Regions from separate parts of the Homo sapiens genome. Here region 2 is linked to region 1. The links come from fine-mapping of genetic effects on gene expression. Tissue or cell type: hypothalamus. Region 1 holds a variant in brackets; the other region holds the start of a gene. All regions are shown on one strand. Distances are from middle to middle.

What was found. PIP is the estimated chance that this variant, and not a neighbour inherited with it, causes the effect.
Region 2: it holds the start of ERI1, and the variant in region 1 is fine-mapped to the expression of ERI1 in hypothalamus (GTEx, PIP 0.97).

The regions. Positions count from the first base shown.
Region 1 is chr8:9,093,973-9,102,157 of GRCh38, reverse strand. It overlaps a transcript of ERI1 not described here. Among named protein-coding and RNA genes, the nearest start is that of SNORD3I, 39 kb to the right of the region's middle. The variant A/G (reference allele first, on the strand shown) is at 3,222.
Region 2 is chr8:8,999,315-9,007,489 of GRCh38, reverse strand. ERI1 (exoribonuclease 1) reads right to left here and starts at 4,593. Exons shown (of 7, transcript NM_153332.4): 1 at 4,319-4,593. The coding sequence starts at 4,426. It overlaps LOC105379227 (a long non-coding RNA gene), which reads left to right and starts at 4,748. Exons shown (of 3, transcript XR_002956680.2): 1 at 4,748-4,829.

The sequences.
Region 1 (8,185 bases):
AGGTAGGCAGAGTCTTCAGGGCCCCCAGCTTGGTGAAGGGAGCTCAAGCTGCATCTCGTCACCTCCCCACCCCAACCCTCTCCACTCAACCCTTGGCCGGCACTTCCGTGGGGCAGAACCTACACAATCCTACACCTTAATATAGCAGCTGGCTGTCAGTCAAAGTCAGGAAGGTTTATTTTCTTGATGCCTGTTCCTTGCTTACAGGGCCTCTTTTTCATGTCCACTCAACTGTCTGGATTCTTCTGCTTTTTGTTTCATGTACTCTCCTTTCTCTCTGACGTGTCATCTCCATACAAGTAAGCATGAAGTTGGTGCAAAAGTAATTACTTTCAATGGCAAAAGCCGCAATTACTTTTGCACCAACCTAATAATAGCGTGATAACACACAGATTCACAAAACAGGTCATACTTTTATTCACCAGTCTAGGCTGTACCTTCCTGAAAGTCAGGGACATGGTTTATCTGAGCAAAACGCTTGACCCATAGTGGATATTCAGTAAATACTGTTGAATGAATGAAAAACAATCTCCCAGTGGTTCTAAATTGCCTTTGAATCATGGATTTCTTTGAAATCTGATGGAAGCCAGGGTGATATGATTTTGCTCTGTGTCCCCACCCAAATCTCATCTCGAATTGTAATCCCCATGGGGAGGGGCCTGGTGGGAGGTGATTGGATCAAGGGGGTGGTTTCCCCTAGGCTGTTCTCCTGATAGTAAGTGAGTTCTCACGAGATCTGATGGTTTAAAAGTGTGGCACTTCCCCTGCATCTTGCCGTCTGCCTCACTTCCCCTTCTCCTTTTGCCAAAAATGTAAGTTTCCTGAGGCTACCCCAGCCATGCGGAACCGTGAGTCAATTAAACCTCTTTTCTTCATAAACTACCCAGTCTCAGGTAGTTCTTTATAACAGTTTGAAAAGGAACTAATACACAGGGATATTTTCTCGCAAAATGAACATGTACAAACATACTAAATTTTGCATACAGTTTGGGAAGGATCACCAACTCCTAGCAGGAAGGGATTTAGATTTTAAGCCAGGATAAAAAGGTGTGATCCCTTTAAAAAAAAAAAAAAAAAAAGGTTGCGGGGGGGACTAGAAATGAACTAGGACCTGACCCTCACCAAGAATCTAATGTGTCACCGGGTAACGGGTCTGTCATCTTCTTTAATCCTTACAACCACCCTTTAAATAGGCATTACTATCTTCATTCTACCAACGAGAAAATGAGGTTTCAATAGCTTTTCCACTGTGAAACATCAGACCGAATATTCAATCCAAGTCTCTTTTACCTGCAAACTCATATTCTTCTGCTATGTCATTATGCCTCCAAATATTACAAATTCTCAGGATTCTACAGTCAATTCCCATTTATTGTGTTTTGATGGATGAGGCCCTTTAAAAAAACTACCATCTAAACCAAGCAAACAAATGCATCTTAAATATAGTCATATATTTTAGATTAGACAACTTTATAAAGGATTCCTATGGAGTTTTAACAAAATCTATAAAATGATTGCCAAATGTATCTTGCACATTATATTTTCCTTAGATTCTTAGACTAACAGTAAAGCAAAATGAAACCAACATCTCAGCTAATCAGAATGCCCCTCACTGGCACCTGTGACTAGGTTAATGTGCTTCTGTCCATGCTGAAAGAAAGCAAAACAGAAGATAAGAGTCTTGACTTTAGCATACATTGACTCATTCACTTACACCGTGGATAGAAACACAAACTGCAGGGTCAGAAAGACCTAGGTTTGAGTTCTATCCTTTTCGCTAGTTGTTAAGAGACCTTAGGCAAGTTACTTAACTTTGAAAAGGCTTAGCTTCCTCATTTTAAATGAGGGTATTCACGGTAACTATTTCAGAGGAATTGTTATTATTATTATTATCATTTTTTGTATTTTAAATATACAGTAGGAACATTTATTTTAACACTTCTAAAAGATATTTCTCCATGCCTGATGATTTGATATAAAAATCAAACCCATCATACTTTCCCCATCAGTCTCTCTACATTTAGGGCAATCAGAAATTTGTACAACACGAATATTTGCTTCTGAAATGAAAATTACAAATTTTATTGAAGGGGTTAATGAATAATGCACTTAAACTTCATAGTGCAATGCTTGGCTTGTAGTAAATGTGCAGTAAATGTTAGCTACAATTTTTCATCTTTACCATCTTGGTCTTCATCGATGTGGTTCTACAACGAGCTGACATGAACAGAATGATGGCCCTGAGGTTCAACAGAACTGGTAGTTTGCCACATGACTCAGCAATTCCACTCACAGTTGTCTGCCCAAAAGAAATGAAAGCATGTGTCCATAATACCAATACCGTTAGCAAAGACTGCGGCATTATTCGTAATAACCAAAAAGTAGAAACAACCCCAAAGGTCCATTGATAGGTAAAAGGATAAATAAATTGCTGTATCATACAATGGAATGCTCTACAGTGGTAAAGAGAACAAAAGCCACGTGAAAAAGAGTATATAGTGTATGCTTATTTATTTATTTGGTTGGGGTTTCTGTTTCTTTCTTTTTTTTTTTTTTTTTGAGAGAGAGAGTGTCCCGCTCTATTGCCCAGGCTGGATTGCAATGATACCGTCACAGCTCACTGCTGCCTTGACCTCCCAGGCTCAACTGATTCTTCCAACTCAGTCTCCTGAGTAGTTGGGATCACAGGCATGCACCACCACACCTGGCTAATTTTTTATTTTTTGTAGAAACAAAGTCTCACTATATTGTCCAGGCTGGTCTTGAACTCCTGGGCTCAAGCAAACCTCCTGGCTCCCTAAGTGCTGGGATTACAGGCATGAGCCACTGTGCCTGGCCCTGTATGATGATTTATACAAAATTCTGAAAAAAGTTGAACTAATCAGTAGCATTGGAGTTCAAATCTTACTTGGGGAGAAGGAAGAAGAGAGCACAAGAACTCTTTGTTGGTTGGATGGATATGCTCATCATATCCTGGTGATGGTTTTATGGGTATATACAGATGTTAAAACTTACCAAATTGTGGCCGGGTGTGGTGGCTCATGCCTGTAATCCCAGCACTTTGAGAGGCTGAGGCAGGTGGATCATTTGAGGTCAGGAGTTCGAGACCAGCCTGGCCAAAATGGTGAAACCCTGTCTCTACTAAAAATACAAAAATTAGCCGGATGTGGTGGGGGGGCGCCTATAATCCCAGCTACTCGGGAAGCTGAGGCAGGAGAATC[A/G]TTTGAGCTTGGGAGGCAGAGGTTGCAGTGAGCCGAGCTTGCACCACTGCACTCCAGTCTGAGTGACAGTGAGAGCCTGTCTGAAACAAACAAACAAACAAAAAACTTACCAAATTGTATATTTGAAATATGTGCAATTTGCTGTAAGTCAATTATACCTCAATAAGGCTGTTTAACATTTTTTTCTATTTCTTTATTAAAAATTTTTTTTTTATTTCAATAGGTTTTTGGGGAACAGGTGGTATTTGGTTACATGAATAAGGTCTTTTGTGGTGACTTCTGTGATTTTGGTGCACCCATTGCCCAAGCAGTGTACACTGTACCCAAGGTGTAGTCTTTTTATCCCTCACCTCCCTCCCAACCATTGCCTGGAGTCCCCAAAGCCCACTGTATCCTTCTTTTTGTTATTGTTGTTGAGATGGAGTCTCACTTATTCTGTCACCCAGGCTGGAGTGCAAAGGCGCCATTTCGGCTCACTGCAACCTCTGCGTCCCGGGTTCAAGCGATTCTTGCTTCGGCCTCCCAAGTAGCTGAGATTACAGCTCAAGCTACCACACCCAACTAATTTTTTGTATTTTTAGTAGAGATGGGGTTTCACCATGTTGGCCAGGCTGGTCTCAAACTCCTGACCTCAGGTGATCCACCCGCCTCAGCCTCCCAAAGTGCTGGGATTACAGGCGTGAGCCACTGCGCTCGGCCAATTATTTGTATTTTTAGTAGAGACAGGGTTTCACCATTTTTGCCAGGCTGGTCTCATACTCCTGACCTCAAGTGATCAGCCCACCCCAGCCTCCCAAAGTGCTGGAATTACAGGTGTGAGCCACTGTGCCCGGCCCACTGTATCATTCTCATGTCTTTGCATCCTCATAGCTTAGCTCCCACTTAGGAGTGAGAACATGCGATGTTTGGTTTTCCATTCCTGAGTTACTTCACTTAGAATAATGGTCTCCAATTCCACTCAGGTTGCTGCAAATGCCATTATTGCATTTCTTTTTATGACTGAGTAGTATTCCATGGTGTATATACATATACCATAATTTCTTTATCCACTATTTGATTGACGGGCATTTGGGTTGTTAAGCATTTTTTTTTAATTAACAAAAATTTAAACTTCTGCAATGGCTTTTATTGCTTTCAGAATAAAATCCACATTCTTTATGATGTATATAGTGCTTGTTTATGTCTTTTCTTCTTTCTTCTTTTCTTTCTTTTAAAAAAGTCTCTTAACTGCCTACTAAATGATAAATTACTCTTTTTTTTTTTTTTTTTTGACAGAGTGTCATTCTGTCACCTAGGCTGGAGTGCAGTGGCACAATCTTGGCTCACTACAACTTCTGCCGCCCTGGTTCAAGTGATTCTCCAGCCTCAGCCTCCTGCGTAGCTGGGACTACAGGCGCACGCCACCGTGTCTGGCTAATTTTTGTATTTTTAGTGGAGACCGGTTTTTACCATGTTGGCCAGGCTGGTCTCGAACTCAGCCTGTGATACTCAGGAGATCCACCTGCCTCAGCCTCCCAAAGTGTTGGGATTACAGGCGTGAGCCACCGCACCTGGCCCTAAATGATAAATTACTTCTGAAGAGAGGCCCTGTTTGTTTGGTTTACCACTGGGTCCCCAGTACCAAATGCAATGCCTAGCACAAAAACACTCGACTGTTAATGAGTGAATAAAAAACAGAAAATCATGAAAAGCCAAAGAGTAATACAAAAAATATAAAAAATATGTAGCATATGAAAGCGGGGAGAAAGCGCTGGGGATTGAATAGTCACAAAAGGCTTCATGGGGAGGCACACACAAAGGGTCCTGAAGGATGGAGGGGGTGTAAATGGGAAGAGAGAAGAAAGGGGGACTTCCAGAGGAAGCGGGAGAGCTAGAAGAGTAAAGGCAGAGAGGGAATGGGTTCGTTTGGGACCTGGGTAGGAAAGGTGGCTTCGTCTAGAGAGTGAAGAGCCCTGACTCCCATCATAAAGGCAATATTTAGGATCTGCAGGATGGGTGCGTGAGATTGAAGAAAAGAAGAATGTCAGGAGAAAGTCAGACAGAAAGTGGGAACAGAGGCCGGGCACAGTGACTCACGCCTGTAATCCAGCATTTTGGGAGGCTGAGGCGGGAGCATTGCTTGAGCCCAAAAGTCTGAGGCTGCAGTGAGCCATGATCATGCAATTCCAGCCTGGGTGACAGAGTGAGATCCCGTCTGAAAAGAAAAAAAAAAAAAAAAAAAAAAAAAAGATGGCAATAGAAGTAAAGAGATGGACATTTCATTTCATAGAACGGGACTTTGGATCACTTAGGCCTCTTCTCAAAGCATGCCTGAAATGTACAATCAACATCAGGCAGCTGGACCACACTTCCGAGGTCAGCCCCAAGCCACCGCTCCTCCCTCCTGATCATCCTCACAGTGAGCCCTTTCACAGTCCAGCAGTGACGTTGTCCAAGTTCTTTCATGGTGCCTCTCCTGTGACTACCTCCATGGGAAAGAAAGCATTGCTTCTGGGGTACTTGGCCCTGGTTCAAGGCTTGAGAGAAGGCCAATCCCTTGATGAAGAACCAAGGGTAGGTGTCCTCAGACACCCCTTGTTTTGAGGCCATACTCTTCCCCAGCCTCCAAGATCCTGGGAGCCGGGGCTGGATTTGTAATCCAGCACCTCTTTATAAACTCAGCAGGAAACCCTTAGAGGACCTGGCTTTGTTTTGAAAGGAGAAGAGAGGAAGCAAAGCAACTGAAAAGGCACTGTTGACTTTTCATTCAAGGCTAAAGCCAAATAGAATGTGTTTGCTCTGCACTGAATGCCATGCAATGGAGAGTTTGTACTTGAACCTCATGAATGGCCCAAAGTAAACGTCCTCTCTACCTCAGGCCCTCAGCAATACATTTAGACAGTGCTTCAGGCTTATCAAGTACTTTCACAGACATTATCTCATTTGATCCTCAGGTCAGCCTATGACGCAAGGGGGATTATTATGATTTCTATATTCCAGATGACCCAGTGCCCTGCAGCTAGGCGGCGAGGGCTCCCGAAACATTTCTTTAATGAGGCTAGTAAGGCCAAGTGCCTTGCCCCCCGACCCACCCCTACAGATGATCCTTAAACACAGAGCAAACTTCTATTATATAAACATCTGTCCTGGCCGAGCGCAGTGTAATCCTAACAGTTTGGGATTCCAAGGCAAGCAGATGTCTTGAGCCCAGGAGTTCAAGGCCAGCGTGGGCAACATGGTGAAACCCCATTTCTACAAAAAACACAAAAATTAGCTCGGCATGGTGGCATGTGCCTGTAGTCCCAGCTACTCAGGAGTCTAAGGTGGGAGGATCACCTGAAGCAGGGAGGCTTGAGCCCAGGAAGTTGAGGCTGCAGTAAACCATTATCAGGCTACTGCACTCCAGCCTGGGTTTCAGAGTGAGACCCCATCTCAAAAACAAACAAACAAACAAACAAACAAACAACAACAACAAAAGACCTGTCCCATGGATTTGGGCATCCTGTAGCCAATTTGAATTTGCAATGCTGAACTCCTTACCATTACAGAATTAGGTTTTATTAAGAGATAGCCCTCTACGGACTCCAAGTAGGGAGAGGTAGAGAGAACGGGAAGGACTGAAAAGATATCTACTGGGTACCATGTTCACTATTTGGGTGATGGGTTTAATACAAACCCAATCTATTCAACAGAACCCCAGCATCACCCAATACACCCATGTAACAAACCTGCACATGTACTCCCTGAATCTAAAATTTAAAAGTGTTTTCAAAGAGGTAGCACTCATGAAGCCCTACAGCGTGCCAGATGCTCTCATGCAGCATCTCATTTAGTCTTCACACCAGTCCTAAGAAAGCAGGTTATACAATCCTCATCTTGCAGCTGATGGAAGTAAAGCTGTTGCAACTGCCAGTAGGAAAACGGCAGGATTCATATCCCACCTTCTGGCTCCAAAGCCCATTCTCTTTCCTTTGTGCCATAATGGTTTTTAAGCTGAGAATTAATTATCTTTGGATCCTTCCTACCACCCATTTCAGGACTCTCCCAACCCCCGTAACACATATACATACTAGCTACATAAAAGGATTACGTTTTTTTAAAAAATAGGAAAAATCTCTCCAATCTTAATATTTGTCTGAGTCTTTAAATTTAGCAAAACACTTCAGGGTTTCCTGTCTTCAGACAGGCTGCCATTGTTAAGTGTTAGGGAAGGGCCCGTCCTACAGGAGATGAAATACCTTGTAATCCCCAAAGCAGTGAACTCCAGCAGGAACTCACATTGTAAAACAGACCAAATAATGAGAAACACATTTATGTTCCCCAACTAGCACACAGAGAAGAGAGAAAAGGAGATGTGGTCTTTGTTCTGAGCAGTTGGGTTGCTGGAAACTCATCATCCATCAACACACAGGACACAGAGAAGGAGAGGGAACAGAGCCAATCTCTCTACCCTGTGCGCAGAGCAAACAGGTGGGGCAGATGGTGGGGAGGGTTTTTGCCTCATCAAAGAGGTACGTGGATTGAAAAGTTTGAGACTCAGCCCTTGCAGCAATTGCAGAGAGAGGGATTGCGAGGCAAATATCAATGCTTAACTCTTGGAGAGGCTTTTGGAATGCTGCCCAAGTCTGCACTGAGAATGAGGGCATGATCCTCTGCCCCTTGAGGAGACTCTCCTGGTTGCTTGGATTTGTCCTGAGAGTCCACGACGATTCTCATGCTCATATTGTAATATGCTATTATTTTAGAAATTGGAGCTTGTCAAGAAACACCGTAGCTAATGTTTCAATTGTCCTCAATGCCTTGTCTGCTATTTGTATTTGATAATATTCTCCAGCAAAGCTTTTAAATTGCTGATAATTACTACTATACTTGTTATTATTAAAAAATTAGTTTATAACAATTATTAGTAATAGTTGAAGCTAGCTGATTGGTGTATAGGGTACCACAATAAAAAGATAAAATAAAAAAGAAGTTTCCTTTATTTG
Region 2 (8,175 bases), 95 kb after region 1:
AACTATTAATATCACAGGCTATACAACAAGCCCTTCACAAACAATATGCTAATATTTACAAATGAACCCATTTTTAAATGAACTTTTACATTATACATGTGTAATAACTTCTGATAATTTTTTAACCTGACTTCATTTCACAAAGTTAACAAAAATTGCCCAACATAAAAACAAAATGGACCGCAAATCTAATTTACAGCTTCCTAGTACTCAAAGAAGGAAATGTATTTAATTTCAAAACTTACATTTTCCAAAAGTTGTACTTAGGTCCACTAACCAGAAGAACTATAGAATTATGAATTTTTTCATAAATAAAAATCTGTTAAGAAAAAACATGACTCAATTCTATTTTCTCCACAGGCAGTCTCAAATTACTAATATGTTAAGTTCCAAAGATTCATTTGTAAGTTATTTTCCACATGCAATATCACAAATATTAGCTATGTTCCATAATTTTGAAAAATATTTAGTACTAATTATCCCTATTAAAGCTTGTTACCTTAGTTATAATGTACCACATTGTCCTCACGTAAACTGTAATTATAGATCAAGGAAGGATAATCACAGAGAGGCCACAGTCCCTAACTCAGAACTGATCCTGATGGTTCAGGAACCATTTCTTACTCTAAGCTCTCAATTTAATGCAACACACATTTACTGGAAATGTAATGCTAGGTAAGGTGCCAGAGTACTCAAGAGTGACTCACCCATTTCCTTTGAGGAAGAGGTCAGCAGTTCCAATGTGTGAACTGTCCATAAATTAAAGAACAGCCACACTGAGGTTCCTTGTTAACAATGTTAAGGAAAAAAAAAGTATTGCTAGTTGACCAATGATTCACTTTCAACAATATATTAGATTTACAATAGATATTGCTCTGCTTGACCAGAATTTTACAAAAAATTATCTTTTGACTTTAAATTTACATTGAATTTGAAACTTCATCTTTAGTCATCATTTAGTAAATTTCAGGTTAAAATTTAGGTCAACATTAAGTAACAGTTTGTCTACCAAAACAGATGTCTCAGTTAATTTAAGCAGATTTTCTCTTTGGATAAATCCTCTTTCTGATTCACTGGTTAATTCTCATCCTAAACTGTAGCTAGAAAAATTATTCACAAGTAACACTTAGGCCTCTTCTATAGATGCTATAAATTATGACTTCCATAAAGAAAAATTTGCTTCCTTTCCTAGGTCCAGCTCTAGTTCTCTTCCTTCAGTGAAGTTCTAGAGACAGCCGAGGTCCAATCCTCAGAAAGCAGTGTCTCCTCCCAAATTTCAAATCTACACTAATGGTTCACAAAGAAGGATGCTCAAATCAATCTGCCAAGGAGCAGAAAGAAAATACTAAAAACCCTACTTGTATTGTTAATCTGCAGAAAGACAAAATTAGTTTACGAAATACATACTTACATTTGCATCAGCATCCGTACCAGTAACTACATCCACCTATCACATGTCACATATAATACGGACCATATAATGAGAAAAGTGATAGATTCCACAATATGGAGAGAAACATTCACCATCACAGAACTGTAACATTTTGCAATATTCACGTATTCAATTAAGTGGATGTATGGTTTATATTATCTCAAATAAGAGAAGCTTTTACATTATGGGATGTGGCCATGAAAATCTTCTATACCAAACAGAGGTTTACTATCTTGTGGCAAACTACTTTAAAACTGTCGTTGAGGCCGGGCGCGTTGGCTCACGCCTGTAATCCCAGCACTTTGGGAGGCCGAGGCGGGCGGATAACGAGGTCAGGAGATAGAGACCACGGTGAAACCCCGTCTCTACTAAAAATACAAAAAATTAGCCGGGCGGGCGCCTGTAGTCCCAGCTACTCAGGAGGCTGAGGCAGGAGAATGGCGTGAACCCGTGAGGCGGAGCTTGCAGCGAGCCGAGACTGAGCCGCTGCACTCCAGCCTGGGCAACAGAGAGAGACTCCCTCTCAAAAAAAAAAAAAAAAAACATAAAAAAACTGTTGTTGAACTTAAAGATGAGTTACAAATTTTCTTTTACAAAAAGACAGGTATTCTATAATTGCTGTCCTCTTCTTATTGGGAAGGGTACCGGAGCTTGATTTTTAGCATTTTTTTAAAGGAACACAATCTGTTGTTGCAAGAAAAAAGAAAACACATTTTAACAGTAAGCTACAAAGTAACTGCTTGTCAAATAAAACTTTTTCTGTATAGAGAACATTTTGAAAACATGTTCTGGAAATGCTATTATTCTGCTGCCAAAAATCTAGGTACTACCTTTTAAAAAAAGAAAAGGAAAACCTCTGCATCTGCACACTGAAAAAAAACTTAGAATTTTTCTTGATTGACGTTCTTCCAAAAGGAGAGTTCTGATGAAATCTGAACCTACTTATTAAAAATATAAATATGCAATAGCTTCTACTAGTTTACAAAGACAACTAGCATTAGAGATAATGGAAATTTACCACCTGAATTCAACAAAAAACTTTGGCCCAGATTGAAAAACACTGTATCATGGCCAGGCGCAGTGGCTCATTGCCTGTAATCCCAGCACTTTGGGAGGCCGAGGTGGGCGGATCACCTGAGGTCAGGAGTTCCAGACCAGCATGGCCAACATGGTGAAACCCCATCTCTACTAAAAATACAAAAACTAGCCAAGCGTGGTGGTGGGTTCCTGTAATCCCAGCTACTAGGGAGGCTGAGGCACGAGAATCACTTGAATCCGGGAGGCGGGAGGTTGCAGTAAGCTGAGACCATGCCATTGCACTCCAGACTGGGCAACAAGAACGAAACTCCGTCTCCAAAAAAAAAAAAAAAAAAGTATCATTACTATTATTTTTTGAGACAGGGTCTCACTCTGTCACCCAGGTTGGAGTGCAGTGGCACGATCACAGCTCACTGCAGCCTCCACCCATGGGCTCAGGTGATCCTCCCCACTGAGCCTCCCCAGTAGCTGGGACTACGGGAGAGGGCAACTACGACCGGCTTTTTGTAAAAAAAAAAAAAAAAAAAAAAAAAAGTATCACTATAAAGAGCATGCAACAGTAAGTTTTTAACAATTACTACCGTCACTAAAGCCAATTTGGAACAGAGACCTAGGCCTTAAGTAGCTGTAAAAGTGTCAAGACTTTCAAATATAAAGAAGCATATTCAAACACACTTCTTTTACTAAAAATAAACTTCGAAATTTATTTTAAAACCCACTTACAGGATGAGATTGACAACGTATCTCAGGCTGAAGAGGGAGGCAGGTGGAAGAGTGGTTCTTTACAAGAGAAGGGATGTGCAAGTACTCTTTGAAATAACAACCTTAGAAGGAGAAAGATAATTGCAAGGATCCAAAGGAAGTGCACACAGGGCAAAAGGAACATACAGAGATCCTTAACGAGACCTTCTTTCCAATGTCAAAGAACACAAGGCAGCGAGGGGCACTGGGAACAAAAGGGAAAAAACTGTGTGAGATGCAATTACCAAGGGAGGCAGGCACCCGACCCCGCAGAGCAGCAAATGGAAGTGACTCAGGAGGGGAATAAGCCAAATTCATGTTATTGAAAAGCTCATTCTAGCTGCCAGATGGAAACTGACTGTGGACGGAAGGAGCAAGAGTTAGGAGGCCTCTTGCAAATACGCACTTTATGAAGCTTTACGAAGTGTTCAACATGTTTATTATTAGGAAAAGATCAATTTTAGTATTCAATCACTTACAATCCGCAGCGCTAGTCAACAATTAACATTCGTTAAATAAGTTTTAAGACTGTTCTACAACTTTGCCACTGTAACTAAGTTCAACCGATGAGATGTCAAAATGATTCATTCAATCTTATACTATGGTTATATGAGACACCAGTTAATGAGCAAAAGCAGCTAAGACGAAGCTCCACTTAACAGGTACAGAGACAGGGATGCTGGTGAGTGCTTTTTAAATTTTTTCTTTTTTTAAAAACAGGCATGAAGTGACATACCTAGCGTATATGGTGAGATTTTAAAAACATAAAGCCTTGCAAACTACCCATAACGGCTACATGGAGTGACAACAGCAACCGTGAACACAGAATTAAGTTTAAAGCAAAACTCCCTCTTAGAACCTGTTAACCCACTGTAGACAGAACTGGTCTTGACGATTTCCTCCCTCCCAGAGAGTGATTCGGCCCTGAGGGGGCTCCAAGACACCCACCCGAGGATAAAGCCAGGGAGCTGGGCACCGAGGAAGAGGCTGGGGTCCAAGGGCGCACAGCTGCACCTTCTGCGGGACACCTGAGAAGAAAGGGGTGCCGAGGGCGCTTTGGGGACGGGGCAGCTGGCGCCAACAGCCAGGCGCGGGTCGACTCCTCACCTCGGGACTGGGACGCGGCGGCTCCTCCCCGCCCTCCGGCCGCGGCGACTCCAGCAGCGCGAGAGCCACGGCCTCGCCGGCAGGCTCTTTACTCTGTGGATCCTCCATGCCGGCTGTCACGCCAGAGGAGAGTTGCTGGAGCCGGACACTTGCTAACTCTCACTCTGCAGAGCCCGAAAGCCTCGCCTTTCTCCGTTGAAAAATTACCGGGCTCGCGTTCCCGCGGCGGCGGCCACACAAACTCCAGCGGCCACCTCCCACTTCCGGGAGCGTGTGGCGTCCACACGCCGGGCAGGCGCAGTGAGCCGGCGTGCGCGGAACGCCAGCGCCGCAGTCCACAGGGGGAGGGAGGACGAACAAGAGGGAGGCGCGCCGGTGAGAAGACGGGGCGTGGCCGGCCGTAGGCGGAGCTAGCGCGGGTTGAAGTTGCGCAAGGATCTAGTCCAGTCACTGGAGGGTAGCACCGGCACGTGTGTTCCCGTCAGTGTTTCCTGAGAAGGAAAAAAGTAGGGTGAGTGGGAAGATATCATAGAGAAAGATGTTTTCGACCATAAAAAATAATAAAACAATTCACATTTTCCATAAGGAGTTTCCTAAAACTTCCACTCTGGGCAAGAAAAGAAAATGGGTCGGGACTTAGTGTCCCACTATAAACAATTAGAAAACGGAACAAAATATAGGAGACACCTATTCAGACATTGGACAACGGACAGCTGTGGACTGTTTTACCTGAGAGAAAAGAAATAAAAGGAGCCGTATATCATCCTGCCCTTTTGCCCAGAGGCGATTTCCAGTCTGTGGTGCGATGAAAGGAAATCATATGGAAACCTAGGATCTCCTGGGTTGAAAAGACAGAGATTGGAGTTGACGAAATTGGGGTAGGCCAAGTCGGTTGGAATTTGTAGGGCAGAATTCTGGAGAGGAGGGAATTACATGGAAAAAGAGCTTCAGAAATCTGCTTAGGAGTACCTTGAATCTTTAACTGAATAAAAAACGTGAAACTCCACAAGGCCAGGAAAGAACAATTACTGGGGAGCAGTACACCAAACAATGGTGAGAGGTCACACAGAACTGGGAATCATTTGAGCTCCCAGCAACCAGAGTGAAGAGATTATTGAATACCATGGAACACGCAATAGAAACCTCAGATGTGAAACTGCCATTGCAAAATTATCATTGAGACAGTGAAAGAGATCAGACCTAACCAACTCCATCTTGCTTTTAACCTCCAGGCTATCCTTATTCATTCCTAGGCGTAGGCCAAACTAACACTGGGAGGAACTTAGTGTATAGCTTATAGTTTAAAACAAAGGTGATAGCCCTTTCTCAAAATAAACCCTCTTCTTGAGACTAGACTGCTTTTGTAGGACTAGTAAATTAGCCGAAAGATTAGAAATTATGATTTAGGACTCATGCAGCTGAAGGCTACAAGATTCTAACCCTCTCCAAATTGCTCCTGGGGATAATATCACTATTGTAAAATCTAAGATCAGTGCTTGAGATATTTTGCAGGCCCTGCACTTGATGGATCAGCTGGCACCTCCCAGATTGATAAACTGACTCACCTGATCTTGGATAAACTAGCTCATCTGATTTTGTGTCCCCCACGGGAGGAACTGACTCAGTGCAAGAGGACAGCATCGACTCCCTATGATTTCATCTCCTACCCAACCAGTCACCACTCCCATCTCACTGGCTTCTCACCCACCCAATTATCCTTAAAAACTCTGATCCCCAAATGCTCAGGGAGACTGATTTGATTAATAAAACTCAGGTCTCCTGCACTGCCAGCTCTGCATGAATTGCTCTTTATTGCAATTCCCCTGTCTTGATAAATCGACTCTGTCTAGGCAGTAGGCAAGATGAACCTTTTGGGTGGTTACGAAAGTGTCATGCCTTAGTGAGATATAATAACCGTAGACTGCAGGACCCAGAACATAAACTACTGTAGATTCTTCAAAAGCCTTAAAACAAGCCCTGAAAGGATCAAACTGCTCTGTAAGTAACCTAATTACCTGTAAGAACAAATTCTAAAACTCTCTGAAAGACTACAGTAAAATCCAGGATTCAACAACATTAAATTCAAAATGTGAGACATCCAGTCAAAAATTGAAAGACACGCAGCACTTGGGGATGCTGAGGCGGGAGGATTGCTTGAGCCCAGGAGTTTGAGGCTGCAGTGACCTATGATTGCACCACCACAACCCAGCCTGGGTGACAGGGTAAGACTCTGTCTCAAAAGAGAGAGAGAGAGACCAAGTGGTAAGAAAATATCTCACGAAGTTCATAGAAACAAACCCCAAAATGATAAAAATGATGGAATTAACAGACAAGGATTTTAAACACCTGTTATGAATATGCTCAAAGATTTAAAGGAAGACATGATAGGAGAGAAACTGGAAAGATTTTTGAAAAATCAAATTTCTGGATGGAGGTGAAAAATATTTGAAATAAAAATTTCTTTGGATGGGATTGCTAGCGCATTAAGCAATGCAGAGAAAAAGGTAAATAAATTCAAAGATATAGCAACAGAAACAATACAAAATGACACACACACACACAGAAAAAAGATGAATACAGCTTCAGTAACCACTTAAAGAGGCTTAATACTTCAGGACCACTTGAAGAGGCTTAATACTATTGACCTAAAAGGTAGAAGCTGAGGCAAAATTAATATAACTAGAGAGTTTATTTGGTCCAAGTTTGAGGATTGCAACCCAGGAGCATAGAATTGAAGTTGTGCTGAATCCATCTACTCAGAAGATATGCCAGTTTGGAAGTTAAGTGAACACTTAGTAACCAATCATAATTGTCTTAAGTCTTGCCCATTCTAGATTATTTGCTTTGTTAAATAGGCAATTGAGATAGGGCATAATTCCAATAACAATAATCTTTGATGGGGTTAAGTAGCCCTTTCTAACCATACATACCTCCATCTCAGCTTCTATCTCAAGAAACAACTCTTTTGACTTTGTTTCTTTGACTTCTAGAACTAGTGCAGCAGCATCAAGAAATTAGACCTGCCATAAATAAAAAGACCCAGAAGAAGATACTCTAATAAGTAGTGAGGCTTTTGTCCATGAAGCCTATGATGAGCAGCTGTGCTGGGGAAACTCCAAGAAGTTTCTCTGAGGAAATTGGATTGTGAGACACAGTTAAAGAATGTCCCTTCTGAAAAATCCTAGCTAGGTGAAAATAGTCGAAGTCAGTCAAAAAATAGTAAAAAAAAAAAAAAAAAAAAAATACAAGCTAGATGAAAATAGCTACATGAAAATTACTATCGTGCAGTAACTTTTTTTGTCTTTAGACTCTGGTTTGAGCTATTAAAGGTTGAACAAAGTGAAACATGCATGAAATAACCGAAAAGGAAGATGAGGCAAAATTAATATAAGTAGAGTTTATCTGGGCCAAGTTTGAGGATTGCAATTGTAGATTCAAGTTGCCCTGGGTATACTCAGATCAGTAGAAGCTACAAGTGAATTTTTAAAGGAAAGAGGCAGTTGCTGGGTTGTTTATCAAGAATTTACTGTAAGGCCAGGCGTGATGGCCCACACCTGTAATCCCAGCAGTTTGCCAGGCTGAGGTGCGAGGACCACTTAAGCTCAGGACCAACCTGGCCACATGGTGAAACCTCATCTCTACAGAAGGAAGGAAGGAAGGGAAGGAGGGAGGGAGGGAAGGAAAGAAAAAGAAAGACAGGCAATCAACAAAAGAAATAAGTAAAATGCTTATAGTATGGAGAAAAGTAAAACAGGAAAAGGGAATGGGAGGGTGCCCAGGTATGGAGGGGGTTACAATTTTAAATAGAATCGTTAGGGAAGACCTCTCTAATGATGTGCCATTTGTGTAAAGACTTG